Regions from separate parts of the Homo sapiens genome. Here region 1 is linked to region 2. A link means that fine-mapping ties the variant in region 2 to the plasma level of a protein whose gene starts in the linked region. Region 2 holds a variant in brackets. A gene starts in the other region. All regions are shown on their reverse strands.

Region 1 (8,000 bases), not on the chromosome of region 2:
GCTGGCAGGTCTTGGAAGGATGGCCTTCCGAAGTCAAGACATTGCGTGTCACCCCCACCCCAAGAGCCAGACCCCATTAGTGACTAGGCACGCAAAGGGCAGGGCCCAGGAGGAGCTGTTGGGCTATTGTGTGCTTTGGGTCACCCCATCAAGACAAGATTCCCACTGCCCTGGTGGCTCTGCCCAAAGGGGAAAGCCCCTGCCCTGCCTCCTGGACCCTGCTCTGGGCACAGGTGTTTCACAAGTAACATCATGGACCCCGACAGGAAACTGAACACGAGTGGAGCCCAGTGGTCTCTTGGGAAGCAGGGGCCCAGGCCAGCCCTCACTGTCCTCTCCCAAGGGAGCCCTTAGAGGGTCAGGGACCCTGGGCAATGATCTCCCAGCCTTTCAGGAGCGGCAGCGCTGGAAGGACCCAGGCTATGGGATACCCAGACAGCGTCGGCTGCATCCAGCCCCCAGCGTGGCCCCAGGCACTGGTCAGTGTGCCTCTGGCCTAGACCACAAAGAACCAGGTCACAAAGTGGGCCTTGCCCTCCTGTTGCCCCTGACCACTAGCCCACCTGCCTCTGGCCCCCATCAGCCATTAGTCAAGTTGCCAATGGCCCTACTGGGAAGGGGGCTCGCACCGGAGAAGGTCACAGACATGGGCCTGTGGGCAATGGGGACAGGCCTTTATCATAAGGAAATCCATGGCCTTAGGAGGTAGCCTGAGCCAGTACCTATCTTGTTTCCCACAGAAGGAATAAATATTTACATCCACGGTCAGAAACCACAAGAGCTCCTGAAAATCAGCCAGCTCAGCAGAGGCCATGGGGCAGGAGGGGCCAGCCAATCGGTGACCGTTCCCTTGTGATATTTAACAGAAGCTAGGGTGAGAACCCTGGCCTGGCTGGAACACCCAGACCAGCTTATATCAACTTGGCAGGAAGTAACAGAGTTAATTAACAGGGTTGACAGCAGCTTCTCTGACCTTCTCCTTCCAGATCCACCAAAAATCCCAGACCACTGACTCAGTGGTGAGATACCCCTTGAAAGTCCTGAGAAACTCCCCCCGGGAGAGAAGACACCAGGACAAGTACCTTTTAAGGGAGCACCAGGGCTCAAGTAAGAAGACACGGCCTGTGGCTCCAAAGCCTGAAGACAACTCTGCAAGACAAAAAGAGATGGATGGGGCCGGGCATAGTGGCTCTGGCCTGTAATCCTAACACTTGGGGAGACCGAGGTGGGAGGATCACTTGAGTCCAGGAGTTTGAGACCAGCTGGGGCAACATAACAAGACCCCATGTCTTAAAAAAAAAAAAAAAAAAAAAAAGAGAGAGAGAGAAAGAAAAAAGAACAAAAAGAGATGGATGAAGAGGGAGACAGGAGGCAGGAGGTGGGTGAGGCCAACCAAGAAGGAGAGGGGGAAATCAGAGACAGGGAGAGGAAGGGAGAGGCAGAGAAGAGCAACCTACACAGTTTGGGACAAACTAGTATCTGTCTGTTCAGCTTCACCGAATGAGCAGGTCGTACTGAGACACCAACTCCCTCTTCAGTGAGCACACTTCATCCCCCAAAGCCCCAAGTACAGACTCCCCTGCCCAGCGCAAACCCCAAAGCTGATGTAGTCAGCTATTTGGCACTCCCCTCGCCCCAGGTAGCTCAGAATACCCCACCCAGAGGCTCCCAGAATACCCCCGCTCCTGCAAATGAGCCCACCTGCTGGAAATGGGAGGGTCCCCAGCAGCCCAGGAGAAAGCCACAGGCAAGGATTCCGGCCACACAGAGGGGAGGGCATCTTGCCCGGGGGTGACGCTGGTGCATCCTCAGGAGAGCCAGCCCGAGGAGTGGAGCGGAGTGAGAGGGGGCCTTGGTGACTGGGAATCTGGTCAGTATGGAATGGGACAGGCCTGCTCACTACTGGGCGGGACGATTAGGCAGTGTTTACTCTTGGAAGCTTCCTGCCAGGGCAGGGGCCGTGGCTAGGGTGGGCGGCCTGCAGCTCCTCCTGCTGCAAGCTGGGCCTTGCTCTAAGATGGTTGCAGTTCAGGGTAACCTGCAGCCCAGTCCTGCACACCAGACAGCTCTCCGGATGTGCACGCCCACCCCCTTAGAGGAGGCCTAAGCCATCTAATCTGGAGAAGGGACACTGGACCAGAAACCCACAGACGGGGGTTCACAAGGAATGCCAGGACCTCGGCTGACTCCCTCTCCGGGGTCCCCGCTCCCATCTGACAGATGAGAGGCTGTGCCAAAGACATCGTGGTTCTGGCTCAACTCTCCACCTACTCTGTGCCTGCGCCTGATGAGGAGAGTCGCAGAAGCAGGCTGCACGGCACCAGATCTCAGCATCATCACAAACGGCCTGGCAATCCCCTTCATCTCCTGGAAGACTCACTTCACATGCTCCAAACCACTCTTTTACACCCACAGAGCCGCACAAGCTGATGACCAGCAGGGGGATTCACCTTGTCTTTCCACCCCTCAAAGTGCAGCCTCTCTCCTCCTCTGCGATCAGGGAGGACACACCTACACTTCCTGCCAGGCCCTGGCTCTGGATCCCTTCCCAGCTCTCTCCTCCTGCATCGTTAGTTTCTGCCCCTCTGCTAGAGCCATTCATTCATTCCTTCAGCCAACAAATGTTTCACTGAGCCCCTGAAACAGGCCAGGCTCTGTGCTAGACACCAGGAAAGCAGCCCCAAGCCAGGCAGACAGCAGCCTCGGCCTCTCACAGCTTAAATTCTAGGGAAGAGAGCCAGACAGCAAAGTTGCTAGACAGACACATGTTGTATATGTAGTATGTTCAAAGGTGGTAAGTGTTATGGAGAAAAATACAGCAGAATAAAGGAATGGGGGACTGGAGGGAAGGGTGTGCTTTCATGCAGGAAGGTAAGGAGGCTGTTGGAGAAGGGGGCATGCTTAGATATCGAGATCCTGGTACCTGGCTCACTCCATCAGCATGAATGACTCTCCTGTCTCTTTTTGGTTTTTGTTTGTTTTTTGAGACAGAGTCTTGCTGTGTCACCCAGGCTGGAGTGCAGTGGCACGATCTCGGCTCACTGCAACCTCCGCCACCCAGGTTCAAGTGATTCTCCTGCCTCAGCCTCCCTTGTGGCTGGGATTACAGGCACCCGCCATCACGCCTGGCTAGTTTTTGTATTTTTAGTAGAGGTGGGGTTTCGCCATGTTGGCCAAGCTGGTCTCAAACTCCTGACCTCAGGTGAGCTGACTGCCTCGGCCTCCCAAAGTGCTGGGATTACAGGCATGAGCCACCAAGCCCAGACACTCTGGTGTCTCTTGATTACAATCAACAACCTTCCCTTGACCCACACTGTCCTCCTGCCATAGCCCTGTTTCTGGCTGTCTTTAAGAACTTAGAAACATTATTTTCAGTGGCTATCTCCACTTCCTTGCCTTCAATTCCCACATACCATTGAAATTGATCTTTAAAAGGTCACCAATAACTTTGTGAACCCTGAAAGAGCCAATCCTTCTTGATGGATCCCAAGTTACTAACTGGGCCTAAATTCAAAGTAGGACCTAGCAGCCATTTGCTGACTAGGGTCACACACACATTCTGCGTTCCTGGAAAGCCCCCACTCTCACTTAACTCTGGGATGGTTTCACAGCTATCTGTTCCTGTTTATGCCGCCAGAATCAACCCATCGACTGTGACCTGCATCGACCAATCTGAACTCAGCAAGTATTAACCAATCAGAACTAAGCAAGTGTGCCTTCCTCATTTGCATAAGTGGACCAAAGTGGGAACCTGGGCAGGAAGTTCTCTACAAAAGACGACCTCTTTCTTTGTTCTCTTTGTTCCCTGGAATGCACCTTTGTACAGAAGGCTGCATTGCCCTGGTTTACAAACTGCTGGAACAAAGTTTTTTTCCTTTTTTAAAAAGAAAACCTGGGCCAGGTGTGGTGGCTCACGCCTTTAATCCCAGCACTTTGGGAGGCCGAGGCAGGTGGATCACGAGGCACGCGGATCATGAGGTCAGGAGTTCGAGATCAGCCTGGCCAGCATAGTGAAACCCCGTCTCTTTTCAAAAATACAAAAATTAGGCTAGGTGCGGTGGCTCACGCCTGTAATCCCAACACTTTGGGAGGCTGAGGCGAGAGGATCACCTGATGTCTGGAGATCCATACCAGCCTGGCCAACATGGAGAAACCCCATCTCTACTAAAAGTACAAAATTAGCCGGGCGTGGTGGCACATGCCTGTAATCCCAGCTACTCGGGAGGCTGAGGCAGAAGAATCACTTGAACCCGGGAGGTGGAGGTTGCGGTGAGCCGAGATTGCGCCATTGCACTCCAGCCTGGGCGACAAGAGCATAACTTCGTCTCAAAAAAAAAAAAAAAATTAGCTGGGCATGGTGGCGTGCACCTGTAGTTCCAGCTACCCAGGAGGCTGAGGCAGGAGAATCGCTTGAACCCGGGAGGTGGAGATTGTGGTGAGCCGATATCACGCCACTGCACTCCAGCCTGGGCAGCAGAGCAAGACTCCGTCTCAAAACAAACAAAAAAAAAGAAAACCCTTTTCGGTGGACTTGCTGACAATCTCAGTGCCATATCTGGTTCCCATCTCTCTGTCCTCGTCCTTCTCAGCCTCTCAGCAGCATCTGATGTGGTTTATTCTCCCCCTGGATTCTCTGATGCCACTCACATCCGCTTCTCCTCCCACTGCACTGACTGCTCCCCCTCAGCCTCCTCTGCTGCTTCGCCCCTGGAGAGCCCCCAGCACCTGCTATCTGGTCTTAACCCTTCACTCCCTATATTGGTACTCTCTCTTTGGATGAACTAACCCAGGTTCATGTTTCAACACTAATTATGTGCTGACGATTTCCAAATTACATCTCCAGCACTGACCCTTCCCTAAGCTTAGGAATCTTATATCCTGCTGCTGATTAGACGTCTCTCCTTGGTGACTGACGGCCCGTTCAAACTCAGCAAGTGTGAAAAGGAGCTCATGGCTCCACCCCCATACTTCACCCTGCTCCCCGCAGACATTTATTGAGATGATAAATGGCCACACCCAATTGCTCAGACCAAAATCCTAGGAGCCTCACTTCCCTGTTACTCCATCAACCTCTGCCTGTTACACACGCACATCAAATCTACCCACTCCCGGCCGGGCACGGTGGCTCACACCTGTAATCCCAGCGCTTTGGGAGGCCGAGGCGGATGGATCACTGGAGGTCAGGAGTTCAAGACAGCCTGGCCAACGTGGCGAAACCCCAGGTCTACTAAAAATACAAAAATTGGCAGAGAGTGGTGGCGTGCACCTATAGTCCCAGCTACTCAGGAGGCTGAGGCAGGAGAATCGCTTGAACCCAGGCGGCAGAAGTAAGGGAGGAGACCACCCCTCATATTGTCTTATGCCCAATTTCTGCTTCCAAATAAAGAAGTAAAAACTAAAAGGCAGAAATAAAATCCACAGGCAGACAGCCCGGCGCCGCGCCCTGGGCCTGGTTAAAGATCAATCCTTGACCTAACCGGTTATGTTATCTATAGATTTCAGACATTGTATGGAAAAGCATTGTGAAAATCCCTGTCCTGTTCTGTTGCGTTCTGATTACCGGTGCATGCAGCCCCCAGTCACGTACCCCCTGCTTGCTCAATCGATCACGACCCTCTCACACAGACCCCCTTAGGGTTGTAAGCCCTTAAAAGGGACAGGAATTGCTCACTCAGAGAGCTCGGTTTTTGGAGACGTGAGTCTGCCGATGCTCCCCACTAAATAAAGCCCTTTCCTTCTACAATTCGGTGTCTGAGGGGTTCTTGTCTGCGGCTCGTCCTGCTACAGAGTGAACTGGCAGGAACTCCTCCCGGTGCCTGGGCCTCAGTTTCCCCACTGTACGTGGAAGATGAGCCGCTGTGAGGCTGAGCAAGGAGCAGCCCAAGGCGGGAAAGGCTCGAGAGTCCAGGACGCAGGCGAGCGACCTAGCCCGGCTCTCACTAGCCCCACCGCCCAGTGCCCCCAGCTCAGCTGCCCTACCAGGTGCTACACACACAGCGGCCCCCCAGTTCCCTTCCGGCGTTCGCATCTCTCATCCCCATCCCGGATCTTGGGGAGGTCCTCGGCTTGCCCCAGTCAAACTCGAGGTCGATGACCCCGGATGCCGCTGGCTAAGGCGGCGGCCCAAGTCCCGTGCGGGTGAACCGCCCAGGCTGCGCGGAACCAGAGGCAGGGATCCGGTTTCCAGCCGGTTGTGGAGAGACGAGCGCTTCCGGGGACTGGAGCGTGCGTGCTGAGGTATGCGCAACGCGTGCGGGGTCTCTTCCGGAGTCTTTTCCTGGACGGGGTCCCTGCGGTGGGTGTGTTTCGGCCTGGCCTGGGCAGGCGCTTGTGCTGCCAGGGCGCCGGGCCCGGGGAGGCCGGGGTCTCGGGTGGCCGCCGGCCCAGGCGCTGGACGGCAGCAGGATGGGGAAGGCGAAGGTCCCCGCCTCCAAGCGCGCCCCGAGCAGCCCCGTGGCTAAGCCGGGTCCTGTCAAGACGCTCACTCGGAAGAAAAACAAGAAGAAAAAAAGGTTTTGGAAAAGCAAGGCGCGGGAAGTAAGCAAGAAGCCAGCAAGCGGCCCCGGTGCTGTGGTGCGACCTCCAAAGGCACCAGAAGACTTTTCTCAAAACTGGAAGGCGCTGCAAGAGGTGAGGCTTGAGGGGGCCCGGGCGGAGCGCTGCGCAGCTCATTCCCGCAGAACGCGACGGAGGGAAAGACTTGGGTAGCCCCAAAAGACCTGTAAAGGCAGATTTGAATCGAAATCTTGTAAACAGCTTTTCACAAGAAAGGTGGCCTGTTGAGGGAGGTCTCGAACTTGTTTGCTTGAAAGAAATTGATGAAAGAATTATTTCAAGTACAAAAAAGCAAAGATAAACCCTTGTACCTTTTGCATAATGAACTAACTAGAATGGATTTTACAAAGAGAAATTTAGCTTAAAATCCCGAAACCAGGCCGGGCGCGGGGCCTCACGCCTGTGATCCCAGCACTTTGGGAGGCCGAGGCGGGCAGATCCCCTGAGGTCAAGAGTTCAAGACCAGCCCGGCCAACATGGTGAAACCCCGTGTCTACTAAAAAAGTACAAAAAATATTAGCCGGGCGTGATGGCGCGCGCCGGTAGTCGCAGCTACTCGGGGAGCCTGAGGCAGAAGAATCGCTTGAACCCGGGAGGCAGAGGCAGTAGTAAGCCGAAATCGCGCCACTGCACTCCAGCCTGGGCGACAGAGCGAGACTCCATCTCAAACAACAACAACGAAAGAACACACTGGTCTGTGTAGCAAGACAGGGAGAAAGAAGATTCCTGTGTAGAAGTGAAAAGCAGATAGCAGACATGTGATGGGGTTCTAGCGACACTTACGGTCTTGAAGTAAATACTAATTGAGCTCCTAAAAATGTGCACTCTGCCATGTGCTCTATGCCATGCGTGTTGCAATCCCCACAATAAGACTGTGAGGTGGACACTTCCATCATCGCTATTGTACAGATGAGGAAATAGGCTGGAAAAGTTTAAATAGATCATCTAAGATTGCGGCTGGGAACCAGGTGGCTGACTCTGGAGTCCATGCTTTTAAGGCTGTGTTGTACCTGCTGTCTCCCTAGTGACCTGCACTTCTGTAGAGGTTGCCTGCTCTCTCCTAGACACTCTTCCACGTGCGTCACTCATACATTCTTACCACATCCCTTGGAGCTCCCTTGGAGCTACCTCCTGTTAGGATCATAGCTCACTGCTGCCTGGGCTCCAGTGATTCTCCTGCCTCAGCCTCCCGAGTAGCCCACACGTGTAATCCCAGCACTTTGGGAGGCCCAGGCAGGAGGATCACTTGAGCTCAGGAGTTCAAGTCCAGCCTGGGCAACATGGTGAGATTCCATCTCTAAATAAAAGTAAAAAGTAGTTTTTTTAAAAAAGAAATGTGATCCCCAGTGGTGGAGATGGGGCCCATAGGAGGTATTGGGTCATGGGGGTAGATCCCTCATGAATGACTTGGTGCCCTCCCCTCAGTAACGAGTAAGTTCTCACTC
Region 2 (17,228 bases):
TGAGGAAAGGACAGTCTCTTCAATAAATAGTGCTGGGAAAACTGAATATCCATATGCAGAAGAATGAAAATTGACCTCTGACCCCTCTCACCATATACAAAAATTGAGTCAAAATGGATTAAAGACTTAAATCAAATACCTGAAACTATGAAACTACTAAAATAAAACATTGGGGAAACACTCCAGGACATTGGACTGCGCAAAGATTTCTTGAGTAATACCCCACAAACAAAGGCAACCAAAACAAAAATGGGATCACATCAAGTTAAAAGCTTCGGTGCAGCAAAGGAAATAATCAACAAAGCGAATAAAAAATTCAAAGAATGGGAGAAAATATTTGCAAACTATTCACCTGACAAGGAATTACTAACCAGAATACTCAGCTATAAAAAAGAATGAGATCATTTCATTTGTAATAACATAGATGGAACTGGAGGACATTATGTTAAGCGAAAAAAGCCAGACACAGAAAGACAAACTTCACATGTTCTCACTCATTTATGGGAGCTAAAAATTTAAACAATTAACTAATGGAGATAGAGAGTAGAATGGTGGTTACCAGAGGCTATGAATGGTGAGTGGGGGGAGTGGGTATGGTTAACGGGTACAAAAATATAGTTAGATTGAGTGAATAAAACCTAGTATTTGACAGCACAACAGGATGATTACAGTCAACAAAAATTTATTGCACATTTAAAAATAACAGAGAGAATATAATGGGAATATTTGTAACAGAAAGAAATGATAAAGGCTTAAAGTGATAGATACCCCATTTACCCTGATGTGATTATTATGCATTATATGCCTGTACTAAAATATCTCATGTACCCCACAAATATACACACCTACTATGTACCCATAACAAATTTTAGATTTAATTTAAAAAATGAAGTGGGCTGGGATGATGTGACATATAGCATCAAGTATTTGCATTAGGCTCTGTCCATGCTTGAGTTTTTGTTTTCCACCATGAAAATAGCATGTTCCAGAGAGTGGGTGCTTCTTCAGTCTAGATCCCAGAATGGTAAGACACGAAGAATACCATCAAGCTGAGTCCTGTTGAGCGTAGCAGAGATGAAGCCAGTTCACATTCTCATATAATATAAGCAAAAACTAAATGTGTTATGCTACAGGGTGGAATGTTGATGTCCCCCCAAAAATTTAAATCTTCACCCCCAAGGTGATGGTATTCGGAAGTGTGGACTTTGAGAAGTGATTAGGTCAAGGGGTCAGGGCCTTCTTAAATAGGATTAGTGTGCATTTAAAAGAGACCCAAGAGAGACACCTCAACCCTTTTGCCACGTGAGGGTAGAGTAAGAAGGCTGTAGACATCAATATCTGCCAATGCCATGATCTTGAACTTCCCAGCCTCCAGAACTGTGAGAAATAAAGTTTCTGTTGTTGTAGGCCACACAGTCTATGGCATTCTGTTGCAGCAGCCTGCACAGACTAAGATGTCATAAACCACTGATAACTTAGAGTTGTTTGTCATTGCACCAAGATTTGACTAATAAATTAACCATGATTTAAGTTGAGGATCCTATGGATTTATTATCTTATTCTTTCTATTTCTTTTTTGGTGCCAAAAGAAATCAGTAGAAAATCTGGCTTTGCCTCACATAGTAATATAGAATTTTAATGATAAACTCATGAATTAATGGGCATTTCAAATTTTTTTTTCTAGAAGAATTGAAGCATTTTATTTTAAATATAATAGATTATATCAGGTATATAATAAGGTATAAGGTGTCTTGATTATACATGGTGGAAAGGTTACTTGACTATTTTTTATAGTTTTATCTAGACAGGCTGCCTTCGTTTGCCATTATATTTTCAACTTCAAAAACGTTTCATTAAGAGTGTTCCAGAAACTTTATGTACTTAGAATACCTCTAAAAACAATTTAAAAATATGTCTCATAAGGGTGCTTGGAAAAGCAGTTAATTCATGTCAAAGGCTATATTTTTGCTACTTTGGAAAATGTTTTCATTGTAAATCTCTTCAAAATGTATTTTTATGATAGAAAATACTCATTTAAAATCAACAATGGTAAACAATTGTTTAAATCATTTAGTAATATTTTAAATACTAAAAAATAAACCCAACAAATTATAGTTTTAAGAAGATAAGGACAGTAACTCAGTTGATAACTAATAACTGTAGAAATAGAGTAAATCTGAACACAGTAGACAGCATAGAATTTTAGAGAGTATTTCAGCCTGTTTCTCAGTATGTTTAATAGTTATTTCAAAAACTATTTATTATCTGTATATGAAATTTAAGTTGATAGCAATGTTATTTTTTCCTTCAATCACTAAACAAGGAAGGAACATGAAGTGGCCCTGGGTAATTTGAATAAGACATTTCTTTCCTGTAGGGACAAGTAAACTTTTAACAGTGTTGTTTTTCCAGTTGCTTTCATCAGATAAAAGCAGCTTCCCACTGTCCTCCACACTCTTGTAAAACCTCATGACCTAGTTTGGGGCCAAATTTAATCTGTCTAAATACTACTTAAGAACTGGGGAGAAATGATCAAGCAGAAACTTTTGCTTAATGTTCTCAATGCACTTGGGAGTTTGAAGCTCAAAATCCATCCCAGCTGCTTGAAGTTCAGCTCTCACAAATTTCCCATGGTCACTGCTCCTGAGGAATTCTTTTTGGTTCCCGTTTCCCTTCCTCCTTGTGTTTGTACAGGGTCTTGTGACAACAGTTCTGTCATACACATACTAAGGTGACCAACCTAGTTCTCATTTGCCAGAAACTTTCCTGGTCTTAAAACTGGATATCTGGTGTTCCCAGTAACCCCTTAAGGCAGGGGCAAACCAGGACAATTGTTACCCTAACCCAGTTCATCTCCAATTCCATATTCCCTGTTACTCAATACACCTTCAGTAGTAGAATCTGCTGTGGTATAAGAAAGAAAAGAAATGGAAGACTAAATGAGGACATGATAATGAAAGATAATAAAGAAGATTTTGAAAGTTAAGAGGAAGGAATGGAGGCAAAATTCCACCCTGCTAATGATCAGCATCTCCTCCTTCACAGCTGATTCTTCTCAATCCCTTCTTCCAGTTGTCATCTCCCCTCACACCCACATTTGTTCTGAGCAGTTTCTTTTCCCCATCCTCCCCATCCCCTTTCCAGAAGTGGTGGTTGAGAACACTAGCCCTGGAGCCAGAATATCTGGATTCAAATTCAACTTCTGCAAGTTGAGTGCTGTGTATAAGCTATTCAACCTCTTTGTCCTCATTAACTCCGTATGAAAGTAGTGCCTGTCTCATATGGTTGTGGTTAAATGAGTTAACACATGGAAAGCATACAGAGCTGAATAATTATCAATGTCAAGTATCATTATCACTGTTCCCCAACTCAGGGTCTACTACAAAAGCCCTTCAGGAGTCTTAGCACTCCATGCCAGGCTCTGACAGGCTGGCCTCAGCACCTCACCACAGCTTAGCACTGTTTCAATGAGCAAAGCTGATTTGGACTTCTAAATGACCTACAAATAAACTCTTGGAAAAGAACCTGTTCATAAGCATGTAGGTCAGATAAAATTGATACTGCTTTTGTCATTCACATACTTTGTTGCTGGAAATGATTATATCTCAGAGCAAAAATCTGATGTGAGCTATTTGTTCATACATTTTTAATTTATGTACTCAAAATGTTGAAATAACATTCAAAGTCGTAGATGCTTATCTGAACTGAACCCAAAATATTCTGAGGTTTAAATATCAGTTATAGTCATCAGAGAATTGTAACTGGAAAAGAGAAACCTTTGCCTGAAAAAAAGAATTGAGATTTATTTTTACTTTTTATCTTGAGAAAAGCTACCTCTAGATCTACAACTATATAACATGTATAGATAGATTCAGAAATATTTTGCCTCTATAATTAGGTTAAAATTATAAGTCCAGAATAATGAATAGTCACCCTAGAGGTATACACTCAATGATTTCAGGATATTTATGATCTACAAAACTAATGACATTTCTAAAGAGAACACAATTTTGAGGTAAGAGAGGAAATTCCATAGTACTTGGGATGGGACTTGGGACAATGGAGATGATGGGAGCTTCTTGAGGTGCAATAGAAGATAATTCTGGATAATTCTAGTGGTAGACTAGAGGAATAGGTAGCATAGAACCCAAAGCTAGCTGTACAATCTAGATAAATATATACTGGGACAAATAGGGATTAAAACTAGGAGAGGACCAGTCCACAGAGCTAAGTAAATTTTATGGAAAAAGGCAGGCAAGACTACAGAATGACTCCAGAGACTGGAACTTGATAAAATACTCTAAAGATGGATCTGGAGAGCTTGTGGGTAGAAAAACGTACAAGCTGCATTTTCAATAATATTTGGGCATTAAAAATCATGAACTGAGTCTTCCACGTACTAAAATACCACAGCATTTTTGGTTTTGTAGACAGCAAGTATACATTTTAGATTTTAGATGCAGACATGGGAGCTAAATGTAGTATGGCTGTAGTATAAGAAACATAAAAGAACAAATAAACCTAAAAACCTGACCGATGTATCAGGGAAGACAAGGCTGTTTGCCCTTAATTTAAGAAAGGAGTTTGAGGAGAAATAAGTAAAAGACTGCACAAGAAATATTGGAACCTGCATCTGTAGCTACATTAAGCCAAATGAGGGGAGGGGAGGGGTTGATGTAATGAATTCTTTACAGCTTAATTAATTTTAAAAAAATACTTCATCAAAACAATTTTACACGTAGGCAAATAACTGGTGAATGTCTTACTCCTACTGATTTGCTTTCAATGTGGACATACCTCTAATTTGTATTTCACATTAATCCCTAAAATCAAGCCTTTCTGCACCAGCATGCCTCCCCCACTGCCACCACTCCCATGCCCCACCTGATTTTACTCTCACTTTATTTCACAATGGTTGTGCGTATGCTGTTTCTTCTGTTTTGGACTCTCTTACTTCTTGATCTGATCCTTAACTGCTCTTCAAATTCCAACGTAAGTATCTTTTATCTGTCAAGCTTTCATTAGACTGCACAAAGGCTCACCTAAAATCCTTCTAGTGTTTTGCATATAGGTCCATCATCAGCAGACAACGATGATACTGGCACCTGGTGCACAAGCATCCCCTAGTCCTATCCCTGCAATGAAGCATGTGCTTGTCTGTCTCCTCCAGTAGACCAGAGGCCTCTCAAAAGCAATCATAATTTGATTGCTTTTCAGTACTTCTACCATTTAGTACAGGACCTGACAGAAGGGCAGGGCTGGGGATGGACAGAAACTTGAGCTCAACTCAAGTATAAGTTCTGTTTAATGGTGTGGGTGCCAAGAAGACTTGTGGAGAAGGATTCTGATGTGTAGCCTGTTCTGAGAGGGAAAGAGTTCCATGATCAATTAGCGATGTCGGCTATGGGAGTAGGAAACTGGGAATGGCAGTACCTATCCCACACATTTGCTCTTTTATCACAGGCATTCTGTAATTGTTTGTTGAGAGAACAAATACATTAGCAAACTTGAAGTAATGTTTCTTGCAATGTATATAACAATATTAAGTAAAATATTCTTTACTTCATTTCATAGCCTCTGATCTCAAGGATCACAAAACACATTGAGTATTTTTTATGTCACTGATCACTCCCTTTTAGTTTTGAATGTAGGTATTCATTTCTCTTAGAAGGGAATTTGAGACCCATAATCCATAAACAGATCATGCATATGCATAAAACAAATGTGATCTCCATGGTACCAAATATACAGGGTATCTGTTTTCTTCAGTAACTTGATTCAGTGGTTTTACATAGCCTTAAGATTACATGGTCAGTCAGAAGTAGGGCTTGGATGTCTGACTATTTTCCCCATAAACAGAAGGACAATATAATTTATAGTCCATACTTGGGACACCTTTGAGAGTGAATGGGGTGCTATTAATTATGTTGTAACAAGAGATGTAAACAAAAAACATTCTGGGACATGTGCGACGTATAGTCACCCTACTCTATAGAACTGTGACTCTAATTCTCCTATAGGCTACATTAAGTTGTTTGCTTAATATACACCCAAAACTGTAATTCCAATTGATTTCCTGTGGTTTCTTGGGTCACTGTATTGAGAAAGATATTAAGGCCGCTTCCAGATGTCACAGAAAAGGGTGCTGTGTTTCACTGGTGATGCCTGGTGGCTGACAAATGTGAATGAAAGGACAATGGTAGGAGTGCCCCTCACTTATGATTCCTGATCTAGAACTGAGAATCCACAGCTGTTTGCACTTCTACACTAGGTTCCTAGGAAGTAGTTATTTCCTCAATATTGACTCCTCCTCCATTTTGGTGCTTCAGTTCCCTTTGTGAGGATCTGGATTTCATATGACTTAGGCCATTCATAACCAAGATTTGCTGCTAACTTTCTAGACTTTATAAATTTGCTACTTACCATTTCCAGTTCTAGCTGTGCTACTCAGGATTCTTGATTTCTTGTCTATCCATACCGTCACAATTATAGACTTTTTTGTAAAATCACTTCCACCTAATTTTGGAATTACTGGGCTTCCAGTCCTCATGACCATACCCTTTACCTAGTGCATGGCTACGGGATCTTGTCTTTTATATAGCTTGGCTTCCATTTTTTAGCTTCCTAGCTATGACCAATTTCTCCCTGGCACCTGTAACTAGCAAAATCCTAAGTCCTTACATAACAGTTAATCTCAAAATCTAGTTTCCAAGCCAGTGCTCTCTCAAAGGTCTGTTGTTCTGTTTCCAAAATTAGCAATGAAACATGATGCAGGTATTTCTGATAAGAGGAGGATTTCATAATAAAATTACTCAGAAAAGTATCTCAATTATCAATTTTGTTTCAGCACAGAAGACAGAGCCTGAATGATCTTTGCCAAGTCCCTCAACTTAGTGTTTACAAAACTTCAAAATGTTTACTTAATATAATAATGACAAATCC[C/T]AGAGAGTTTTGTGAAGAATAACATAAAAGTCAGAAGGGCTTGCTTTGTTAATGCTAATTAACCCATTTGTGCCTGAAGCTGCAATTTTTTGAATTTTTGCAATCAGATCTTGGTGATGACCTTGAGCAGCAGGATATAAATAACTCCCAGATGCTTAGCGTTCCAATAATGGAACACTAGGCATAAATGGATCAGGACACCTGTCCTAATTCCATTATAGGATTGTACTGAGGAACGAATGCAGTGATAAATAACACAGTTGTTAGAAAATATAAACTATGGTCTTTTGTATAATGCAAATCTCAGATATGTTAGAAATGGCTTTTGTATTATTTATCTTAATCTAACGTAGTTTTAACTCCAAGACTCAATTCTACCATATTGCCAAGAATTCCTCTAGCCTTTTCAAAATAGCACCAGAGACTGGGAGCCTTAAATCTTCATGAAAATAGGGAAGAAGCTGATGTTCTGGCTAACATGGTCACTTCTGATTTTTTCACTATCCAGAAGATCCCCTTGACATCTGGCAGTTCTCAAGTGCTTGTGTACCAGTCTCAGGTGGGAATCTTTGGTCATGTTTGGAACGAACCCAGCTGTGGTCCCATCTCCTGGTAGCCATCTCTCACTTCTGCGGGCTCCTGACATCTAATATTCAACTCTGGAGTCATCCTGCCTTCTCCCACATTCATCTGAGGACCAGGGCTGTGGTTCCACTGCCCTAGGGCCTATGACCAATGAGCCTCTCTCCTCTGGGGGAAGACTCTCCACCCCTGGCTTCTACAAATTCTTCCTTGTCTTCTTTACTGCATGGGCAGGTGGGACAGGATGATTTCTTTCCATTTCCCCATCTCTTCTTCTCTCACTGGGCATCCTGATGGTGGCACAGGGGCAGCTAGGTGTCAGGGCTGGGACTTGAGCAACTCAATAGCTGACAGGCTCAGGGAGATAGGGAAATACATCACTGACAGCCTCGGCCTCTTCCTCTACAATCACCTCATTCTATTTCCAAACTCAATGCTGGACTCCCTCTCATGGGTTGTTGCACATTTGGTGATGAATTTCTTTAACTGGCTCTAGGCCAGGATGATAAAGCAAAGACTATAAAACACACAGAATTACTGCAAAGAAACAGAACCCACATTCTTTCCAGATATTGCATGTTGAAAACTACATATCCGTAGTCATCTGGAGATTTCGTTGTTTAGGAATACAATTCCTAGGTGGATTTTTCTTTTTCTTTTATTATTATAATTATTATTGTCAAAGGAAACTATTATAAACTGAATGCAATAGAAAAAAAAGGGTCTACTACCACTTTTAGTTTCTGTAGTATTGGTTAATGAATATGATACTCCTCTCTACAGCCCCTCTCCCCAACATCCATGTTTTATGGCAAAAGATTATAGGCTCATAAATGCAGCTGGGGCCAATAATTGATGAATGCAATATTTTATGACAGATTATGCATTTCCTTAGACAGGTAACTGTTACAGAAATATTGCTTCTTGATTATAACCAATCAGATAATAAAAATATGTTTCAGTTTTACTGAGATGTTTGATTTTCTTAGGTCTTGTTGTGCCACACCAGGAATAAAGCTTAATTAAGGATTCATTTACTAATTGTTTATCATAAAAGCTATATTCAAGGGAAAAAGTTACATTGAATCCATAGTTTTCTGGGAGGAGAACATGGGAACAGTCTGTTTGTGACCTGTATTTCTCTGCCAACTTCAGGACTTGGTAACCTATACAGGTTTCCTATGTGAGAGGTTAAAGTGTGGGTCCTTCTGTTTCCTAAAAAGGAAGCCTATAAAGCACCACATCATCTTTTAATTATTTTCCATACAATAAAGCCAGTTTAAGGCCATGAAATGGCCTATGAGCTCCTATGTGTTATGTAACATTTTCAGTGGTTACTGTAGCAACATTTTGTCCTTTATGGCATTTCATTTCCATATAAAGTAATCTGCATTGTTATGGGATGCTTTGTCCCATAGTGATGACCATAAACCATGCTCAAGGGTCTCAAACACTGACTCCCCACTCCCTTTTGTTCTACCTGAAAGGCGCCTACTAAGCTTCTTCTTTTAGTGACTATTAAAGGGGGAAGGATGCCCTGAAGAGGTTCGTCCGCTGTCCAACAGCGACCCCTAGAGGCACAATGCCTTGAAAGTGGCCAAAACCTCCAAAACTTCAATGCTTTTCTCCAATCAAGTGCTGCTGTAATTTGCTTACCTTGAGAACTATCACAGCATTAATCAAGACCTGCCTTTACTCTGAAAACATGGGCTGCTTTTGGTGCCCAAAAACGAAAGCCCAAAGTTTCGGGAGCTTTACTACCTACTATCTACTACACATACATTTGTTTTCTCTTTGTGAGATTTAAGGGAACCGTGGAAGAATTGCTTTTTATTCATCATCAAATAAGCATAATAACAAATTTGGGCATAGTCAAGATACAACGCCTTTGATGGCTTTTCGTTAGTTTTTTGTTTTTGTTTTGTTTTGTTTTTCGCTTGAAAAATAAGTTAAAATCTCAGGAAGAAAGAAAGAAAATCCTAGCGCTTTTTCTTTTCTGAGCTTGCAACTGTTTGTAGCTCAGGCACCCGGATGATTCATCCCATGAAAGCCTTGAGCGCTCCATTTGTTTTGTAGATTTCACTACTCCCTTTGTTCCGCTTCAAACCTTTCAGAGGGCTGAAATGCATTATTACCTTGTTAAAGCTCAACCAAAATCATTTCTACAGCCTGAAGCTGTTTTGACGTGGGTTGAGTATCTCACACAAAAGAATTGCTTTTGTTCCCAGAAGCTCTTATTGGCTGAGTGGCCTTTGCTCTGAGCCAATCAGAAGCTAGTTGTTAGGCTTGGCTGGCTATTTTTAGCCCAACACGCAAAAACACTTGGTCTTGGAGGGGGTCGGCTGGAGAGTGAAAGGCCCTGTAGTAAAAGCCAACAGCTAAATGCATTTTGGATGTCAAGGCGCGTTTGACATTTTCTCTTTAATTCCTCATACGCTGTTACATTAGCATGTGTTTTTCGTAAACAACAAACTTAGAGCTGCATTTCCCAGTCCTGAATTATCCATTTAGTAAAGAGACAGAAAGGCTAAGAAACAGCATTCCCCTTTTATCCAAAAGCAACGCACGGTAGTATCTAGTTATTTCATAACGCAAAAAAAAAAAAGTCAGTTACCGTATTGAGAATACTAAGGTGTTTTTGCCAAAGAATTTTTATGAATTTTCATCTTGAGTTAGAAATTTTCAATGCCTTGCTCATAATGAATTATAGAGTCCTAAAATAATCTTTTCCTCTTGCCCTTTAAATATGTATATAATTACACGAACGAGTATACACATGATGTGTAGCAATTAAAATAATAAATGCTGAGTGTGTTTCATGCATTGAGAAAAAGCATTCTTTTGAGCATGTTCTTCCATTTAAGCCATTACTCAGAGGGCACAAGAAGTATTTTTCCCAAATGCGCTTCAAGAGACAGGGCATTAAAACACACAATTTGTTAATTATCCGATATTATCAGGAAATGAAAGTTGCCAAACGGGAAAAGCCAGGCTCTTAAACTTTGATTTTCCCTCAGCAGTCTATTCAACTGGGCTTATATAAGGAGGAGACAAGCTGAACCCAAATTTTACAACACAAAGCAATTTTTATTGGCAGCAAGGGAGACCCCTTCCTGAAAAAGAAAGAAAAAACCCAAATCTATGTCTAATTCTTAAAATATGTTTCAGGTTGTAGATTTTAGCAATATTTATTATTCAAGCTTGGGAATATGACCTCATTTGCCATGGTTGTTTGCTTATTTTAAGAAAAATGCCTTTCTACTTCTTGTTGCAAGCCATCAGGCAACCATTTAAACATGCAAGCAAAAAGTCTGGATCATGGGCATATTTAAAAATCTGGAAGACTTCAATAAGTTGTAAAGATTTACGATTCCATCGTGGGCTTGCAGAAGGGGTTTGCTGTGGCCTTCTGTGAGCAAGGGCGGCCTAGTATATGGTGGGCATAGGCCAAAGAACTTACCAAAAATTCTACCAGAGTGAAGGGAGCACAAATAGTTTTGGGGGAAAACTTTCCTTGTCTTAAGCAATACCGTATACAGTGTTTAGAAGGAATGTCACCTAGGTTTCAGAAGGTGAATTTGAAAGGCTGAAATAAAGTACTTTAGAAAGAGGTATCTTTTTCTTTCCAACATCAATTTGATGCACACAGGGACAGATTTTGAGAAGCTCTGTAATTGCTCCCAGGAGTTGAGTTAGGTTGAGGTAGTCAACCAGCTGCTAACAATTTAGTTTAATATGCAGTCTTAGTAAATTAAAGGAATCTGATAAATTGAGACCCAGCATGATTCTTATTTGTTTGCTATGGCATAACATGTTGAACGCCAGCAGAAATTAACCCATTGAAATTTTTCTACTCAAGGCCCCCATTTTATTTTCTCACTTTCCTGTGTCAGATGTTTTTGCTCCAGACTTGGTCATCTGAGCAATTCCTTAGTTTTATGCTTATCTACTTAAAAAATATATATATAACAATAATACAAATTCTAGAATCATGCTTATTTTCAGTTTTCTCTCTGTGTTTGTATTTAAACTCCTTGAAGGTAAAAATAAATAAATAAATGAGTCTGTTACTCCTCTTGTGTGTTAACCTTTCTACTTCACATGTAGATCATCTTAAACATGCTTGATGTAGATTTTGTTTTCTGTGGGAGCTGAGACACTTGTGGGAGGAGAAATGTGCAATTTTGTACTTGGCTACATCCCCAGAGGAGTGGTGACCAGAAAAGGGAAAGACAGCTTGCCAGATACCTAAAGGATAAATGAGATATTGAGCTACTGGAAACACCAAAATTTACCATTGATTCTTTCTACACACTAAACTGTTACTTGTGATAGTAGTTGTAAAAAACTGCATGTTTATTAACCGAAAGGTGATTGTTCTAACATTCACTGGGAAAGAGTGAAATGGTTGGAATAACACTTTAGCACTCATACCTAAAGATTTGCAAAGCCAAAATGCCAGGCAAAATTAAAACAGGCTAAATTCATATGTACAAAAGAGCTGTAATTCTTTTATGATGAAATAGATATTTTCTTAGAAGCAACAGTTTCCTGTGTTCTGTAAAGTAAGCCAAGTCAGTAATGGGTAACTCTGGCATCTCCTGCTCTCCTCTCACCTCATGGATGCCAGGCTTTCGAGTTGTATTTCAATTCTCCCTTACATTGTGGCCTCTTTGCCTCACTCCCAAATTCCTCATACCTCTTCCAAACTTGCAGTTAGGAGTGAATATAGGATCCTCCTCCTCCTCCTCTTTCTCTCTCTGTCTTTAGATTAAACTGAAAACATGGCAGCTTTTTCCAAAATTATTCATTCTTTGTCAGGTGTGTGTGTATGTGTCTTATTGTGCCATTGAAAATAAGAATGTGGAGGGTGCCTTACTATGCCATAGAACAATTTATTGTGTTTCTGGGTTGCCATCTTTTCAATCTGATTAATTTATGGTCCCATAGAGAATCTCTGGTGTGAATTATGTTAGCTTTGTTGAGTCCACTGTGCAGAAAGTCAGTTTGTATCAATATTCTTCTAGGCTTAACAGTTTCTCCTTAAAAGGCTTAATAATTGCCTGTCATTTGTCTCTTGGCCCATTTTTATCTTGGAAATGATTGGCTGTTAGGCAGACCATTTGTGTAATATTACTATAAAAGCCTTAAAACATGGGAAGAAAATTAGAATCATATGTGTATATACTAGGTTAGTAATGAATAAAGTGCTTTTCTACAAAATTTTGAGGACCTTTTAGGAAATCAAAATCTTTAATGACATGAGGATATCCCAAGTCAGAATAAGGGGAAGTTTGAGGGAAAATATTTAAATTAGAGGGTAACTTTGTGCAAGGACAAGTGATATTTGTAATTTTTAGTGTACAGGCTACCATGAAGCTTACAAATGAAAACAACAGCAACAATTTAAAACCAAACCATCTAAGTCAAATTTTATCTAAAATGAGGTAAATGCTATGACAAAAATGAAAATTTTATTGCAATTCAAGATCAAGTAGATGTCATTATGGTTTTTCAAATTATGAAATAAATAAGGAAGGAAAATGTGGCTAAACCTACAAAGAACTATGAAGATTAAAAATGGAACGTGGAATTTGTACTGTCTTAATTCCTCTGGCTTTTATAAACAAATAAAAGTAATATTGTATACTGCTAATAGCCACTCTAAAATATATTCCCCAAATGAGAAAATAATTGTATTTACATTATATTATAAGAATAAACTTAATTATGTTTTCAAAAGGAAATACTGGAAAGTGTAATAATAGACCTCAGAATAAAATAACACAATCCAAATATCCCTTATATTTTTAATAAAACAGCAGAACCTATTATTATAGATTTTCCACTAAGGAAAAATATGGAAAGAAGCTGAGGGAAAACATAGGTAGGGCAAAAAAATGCAAACCATTTTGAAACTTGATGTAGAAGCATATTATTTTAGCAAAGTAAGGGAATCTATAGATCCGAGTGAACTATTCCTTTTCATTGGCATCCAAGATCATTCATCATGTGAAAATCTGTAGTATAGTTAGATGTAGAACAATCCAGAAGGAGGTGGGGCTGGGTGTTGGTCACATAACTATAAATTTTTCAAACCCCAAAGATTACAGAGCTCTTAAGCAATATGTCCGGAATAAGTGAGCAGAAAGCAAAGGCATGAAGTGGCACTGTGAATAGTCCTCATTACAGCTGCATGCCTAAGGGGTCTTATTTACAGCTGCCCTCTCCTTCCAGTGGCAACTCTTTTCTCTTTCATGCATCTTGAAAGCCTCTGTAATTTCTCAGTGAGAATGATTTGTTGCTTACAACTGACAGAATGACAAACGAATGCTTTTAAACATCCATTTTAAATACAGGACTATTAGAAAAAAATGCTGCGAAAATCCCTTACCCTTTTTTTGGTGGGGGGAGGGTAAGCGGCTATTGGAACACCTCTGGCCTTCTGTGGAGTCTTTAAAAGTCGACTGTAGTTTTTAAAATGACCACTGTAGTTTGCCTTGGTGCATAATGACTTGGTTTGTTTCAGAAAAGTCCTTTGTTAATCAGCTGGTTTTCCAATTTGGCTGTAAGTACTGATGTCCATGTCAGGGTCTAGTTTTGTACTATCCTTTACTTACTGCAATGTCAATGTTATACTTCCTTTGGTTAAAATAATAAAATAGCTGATTGGGTATTTTGTAGGACCCATCACCCTGTGGTTGGTGCCTGTGGTGCCACAGTGTGTCCGTCAAATGAGCGTATGTGCTGTTCAGCAAATTACCTTTGAAAAGAGGCATGGGCACAGGCTTCTTGTAAATTTCACAGCTGTGAAGCCAGATGTTGGCTGACATGCACTGCTGGGGTTACCGTGGGAAACGGAATCATGATGCTTTCTGGAGGACCCTATATTACACTTCATGTCAGTAACAAACCACAGCCCAAATTGATGATGGATGCAGTGGCTTGAAAGCTGTTGAGCATTACTTTGTCACCATTGAAAGGCATTACTCTTCACACAATGCACAACCCCATTAACCTCTGGGACTAAATCTCCATAGAAATCATCCCCTACTTTCTGCAAACTTTGCTAGAAATGTAGTCATTAATATCAAAAGGCAAGGAGACAACATGGGAAACTGGATATAGAAACATTTTCTGACAGAAGATATACAATGTGTAGGCATTCCCTATGCTAAAGGCTGAGAAATGCAAGATATTCATGTTGATCTCCAACCTTTCACCCTGTGTTAGAATTTGTAGGACAGATATAGGAATAAGGGATCTGGAAGAGAAATCTAATGCCACTAATCCAAACAATTTTAGAACTCCCCTCTTAGCATTTTATCTTTCTTCACTTAATATTATTTCGCAGAAGTATCAGGAGTCAGACGGTATGTTCACAAATTGGATTTCAGTTCGAGTGATGCCATCATCTTCTAGTACATTCATACTAATTGCATAAGGCTAATGCAATCCATCCTCAAGAGGATGGTGTCTTACTTTGCTATGGCTGCCATAATCAAGTACCATAGATGAGATGACTCAAACAACAGAAATTTATCTTCTCGCAATTCTGGAAGCTAGAAGTCCAATATCAAGGTGTCAGCAGGTTTGGTTTCTTTGGGACTTCTCTCTTCAGCTTGCAGATGGTTGCTTTCTTCTGTGTCTTCACGTGGTCTCTCCTCTGTGTGCTCATATTCTGGTGTCCCCTAGTATGTTCTAATCTCCTCTTCCATAAGGACACCAATCAGATTGGATTAGGGCCTAGTGCTATGCTCTGAATGTTTGTATGTCATCAAAATTTTTTTGTTGTTCTTGAAAACGAATCCCCAGGATGAGAGTATTTGTAGCTGGGGCCTTTGGGAGGTGAGATCAAATCTCCAGTGAATGGGATTACTGCCCTTACAATAGAAGCCCTAAAGACATCCCTCATCCTTCTGCCAGGTGAGGACACAGTAAAAAAACTAACTGTTCATGAAGCAGGAAACAGCCTTCATCAGACACCAAATCTGCCAGTGCCTTGATTTTGGGCTTCCCAGACTCCAGGACTATAAGAAATACATTTCTGATGTTCATAACCCACCCAGTTTATGGTGTTTTGTTGTAGCAGCCCAATAAGACTAAGACATCATCCTCTTGAGGAGAATCCTAGTATTATCTGGGTTGTCCCTCCTGCTCACTCCCTGTCTTCCTGCATGGATAGACCTCCAAAGGCCCTCTAACTTCACATGCACAACTGTGCCTCTTTCCTCACTCACTTTATTCTGACTTGCAGACCTTCCTGATGGAAAAAACCTACTGGTCACTGCTAACAGCAGCTGTTACTTTTACTGTTCTGTTACCTGCAGATGTGATAGATGGTAGGCTTTGCCTGTTCTTTGATAAGAGGTGTTAACTGTTCCTTACTCTCCACCAATGGCAGTTCCAGCCTCCCTGAACCCTTCCTGAATTCTGAATAAGCTCTGCCATTTTGCACCTCTAGCCTGATTCAGCATATCCTCTCATTTCTGCCCACCCGCCTTCCCTTTGCCCAGCCAATTTCTACCAATCCTGCAATCCTCCTCTTAGAAATAACTTCTTTGAGAAGTTTTGCCTGAACCCACAAGACTCTCTTAGCCCTTTTTAAACAAGTCTCCCTGTACTAAGCCAACACTTAAGTCTTATATTGTAGTTCAGTGGTTTTCAAACTTAATTGTGAAAGCTGGACATGGTGGCTCACTCCTGTAATCCCAGCACTTTGGGAGGCTGAGGCGGGCAAGTCATCTGAGCCCAGGAGTTCAAGACCAGCCTGAGAGACATGGCAAAACCCCATCTCTACAAAAAATACAAAAATTAGCTGGGTACAGTGGCACACACCTGTAATTCCAGCTACTTACGAGGCTGAGACAGGAGGATCGCTTGAGCCTGGGAGGCAGAGGTTGTAGTGAGTGGAGATCACACCATTTCACTACAGCCTGGGTGACAGAGCAAGACCGTGTCTCAAAACAAACACAAACAAAAACAATCAAACTTGAGTATGCATCAAAAGCAACAAGAGGGCTTGTTAAAAACAAAGGCTGCTGAGTCCCAACCCAAAGTTTCTGGCACAAAAGTTTTGGGGTGAGCTCAGTAACTTTCATTTTTTACAAGTTCCTCATAATGCAGGGTCAGGGTGATACAGATTTCAGTACTGGGACCACACTGAGAGAGACTGCTTTAGATAAATAGTCTATGTACTTCTATTGGCTTTTCTCATCTCACTACCAACAAATTGTAAACTCTTCAACGGCAAGTATTTTATCTTTCCAACTGCTGTGCGCCCAGCATTTAAAACAGTACCAGGAACATGATAGATATTTAACAAATAATTGTGTTGTTATTCCCATTTTATTCACATGAATGAATACAAATGGGAATTCTTTACATTCAGAGAAAAATTTTTAGAATAAGAGTATGCTTAAAAGGATTCTGTTGTACCAAAGCTCATTTAAGGTACATAAACAGGAGTGTCAGTACTCATTTAGAAAGGGCTAAGTGTCTAAAATCATAATGTTGTTTATACTGATTTGATATATATACAAAACCATTTTATAGGAATTTTGGCTAGGGTTATTTTGCCTCAGGGAAATGTTGTAAGATGTATAGCTGAAAAAAAGAAATGTGAAATGAGGCATTAGGAAAACTGATCATTACCTAATGAACACAAAAGGGAGTCAGAAAATAAACGTAAAACAGGGGAGCCT

Direction of the effects. Alleles are on the strand shown, and positions count from the first base shown. The strength of an association depends on the size of the effect and on how common the allele is.
As copies of C replace T in region 2, the plasma level of the protein whose gene starts at base 1,883 in region 1 goes up (weak association).

What was found. PIP is the posterior inclusion probability: the model's chance that the variant is causal. The UK Biobank Pharma Proteomics Project read protein levels with antibody pairs (Olink). The fine-mapping took linkage between variants from a reference panel, not from the people measured, so its PIPs are less certain.
Region 1: ADAMTS13 starts here. The variant in region 2 is fine-mapped to the plasma level of the ADAMTS13 protein (UK Biobank, PIP above 0.99).

Annotation. Positions count from the first base shown.
Region 1 is chr9:133,416,250-133,424,249 of GRCh38, reverse strand. It overlaps ADAMTS13 (ADAM metallopeptidase with thrombospondin type 1 motif 13), which reads right to left and starts at 1,883. Exons shown (of 29, transcript NM_139027.6): 1 at 1,702-1,883; 2 at 1,083-1,149. The coding sequence starts at 1,806. REXO4 (REX4 homolog, 3'-5' exonuclease) reads left to right here and starts at 6,240. Exons shown (of 8, transcript NM_020385.4): 1 at 6,240-6,630. The coding sequence starts at 6,406. RefSeq lists enhancers at 2,129-2,188, 2,309-2,358, 2,589-2,728, 5,926-6,145 and a silencer at 6,256-6,495.
Region 2 is chr12:91,374,079-91,391,306 of GRCh38, reverse strand. All of the region lies in intron 4 of LOC105369896 (a long non-coding RNA gene), which reads left to right. Among named protein-coding and RNA genes, the nearest start is that of LINC02823, 56 kb to the right of the region's middle. RefSeq lists a silencer at 2,461-2,755 and enhancers at 8,750-9,581, 9,582-10,415. The variant C/T (reference allele first, on the strand shown) is at 6,943.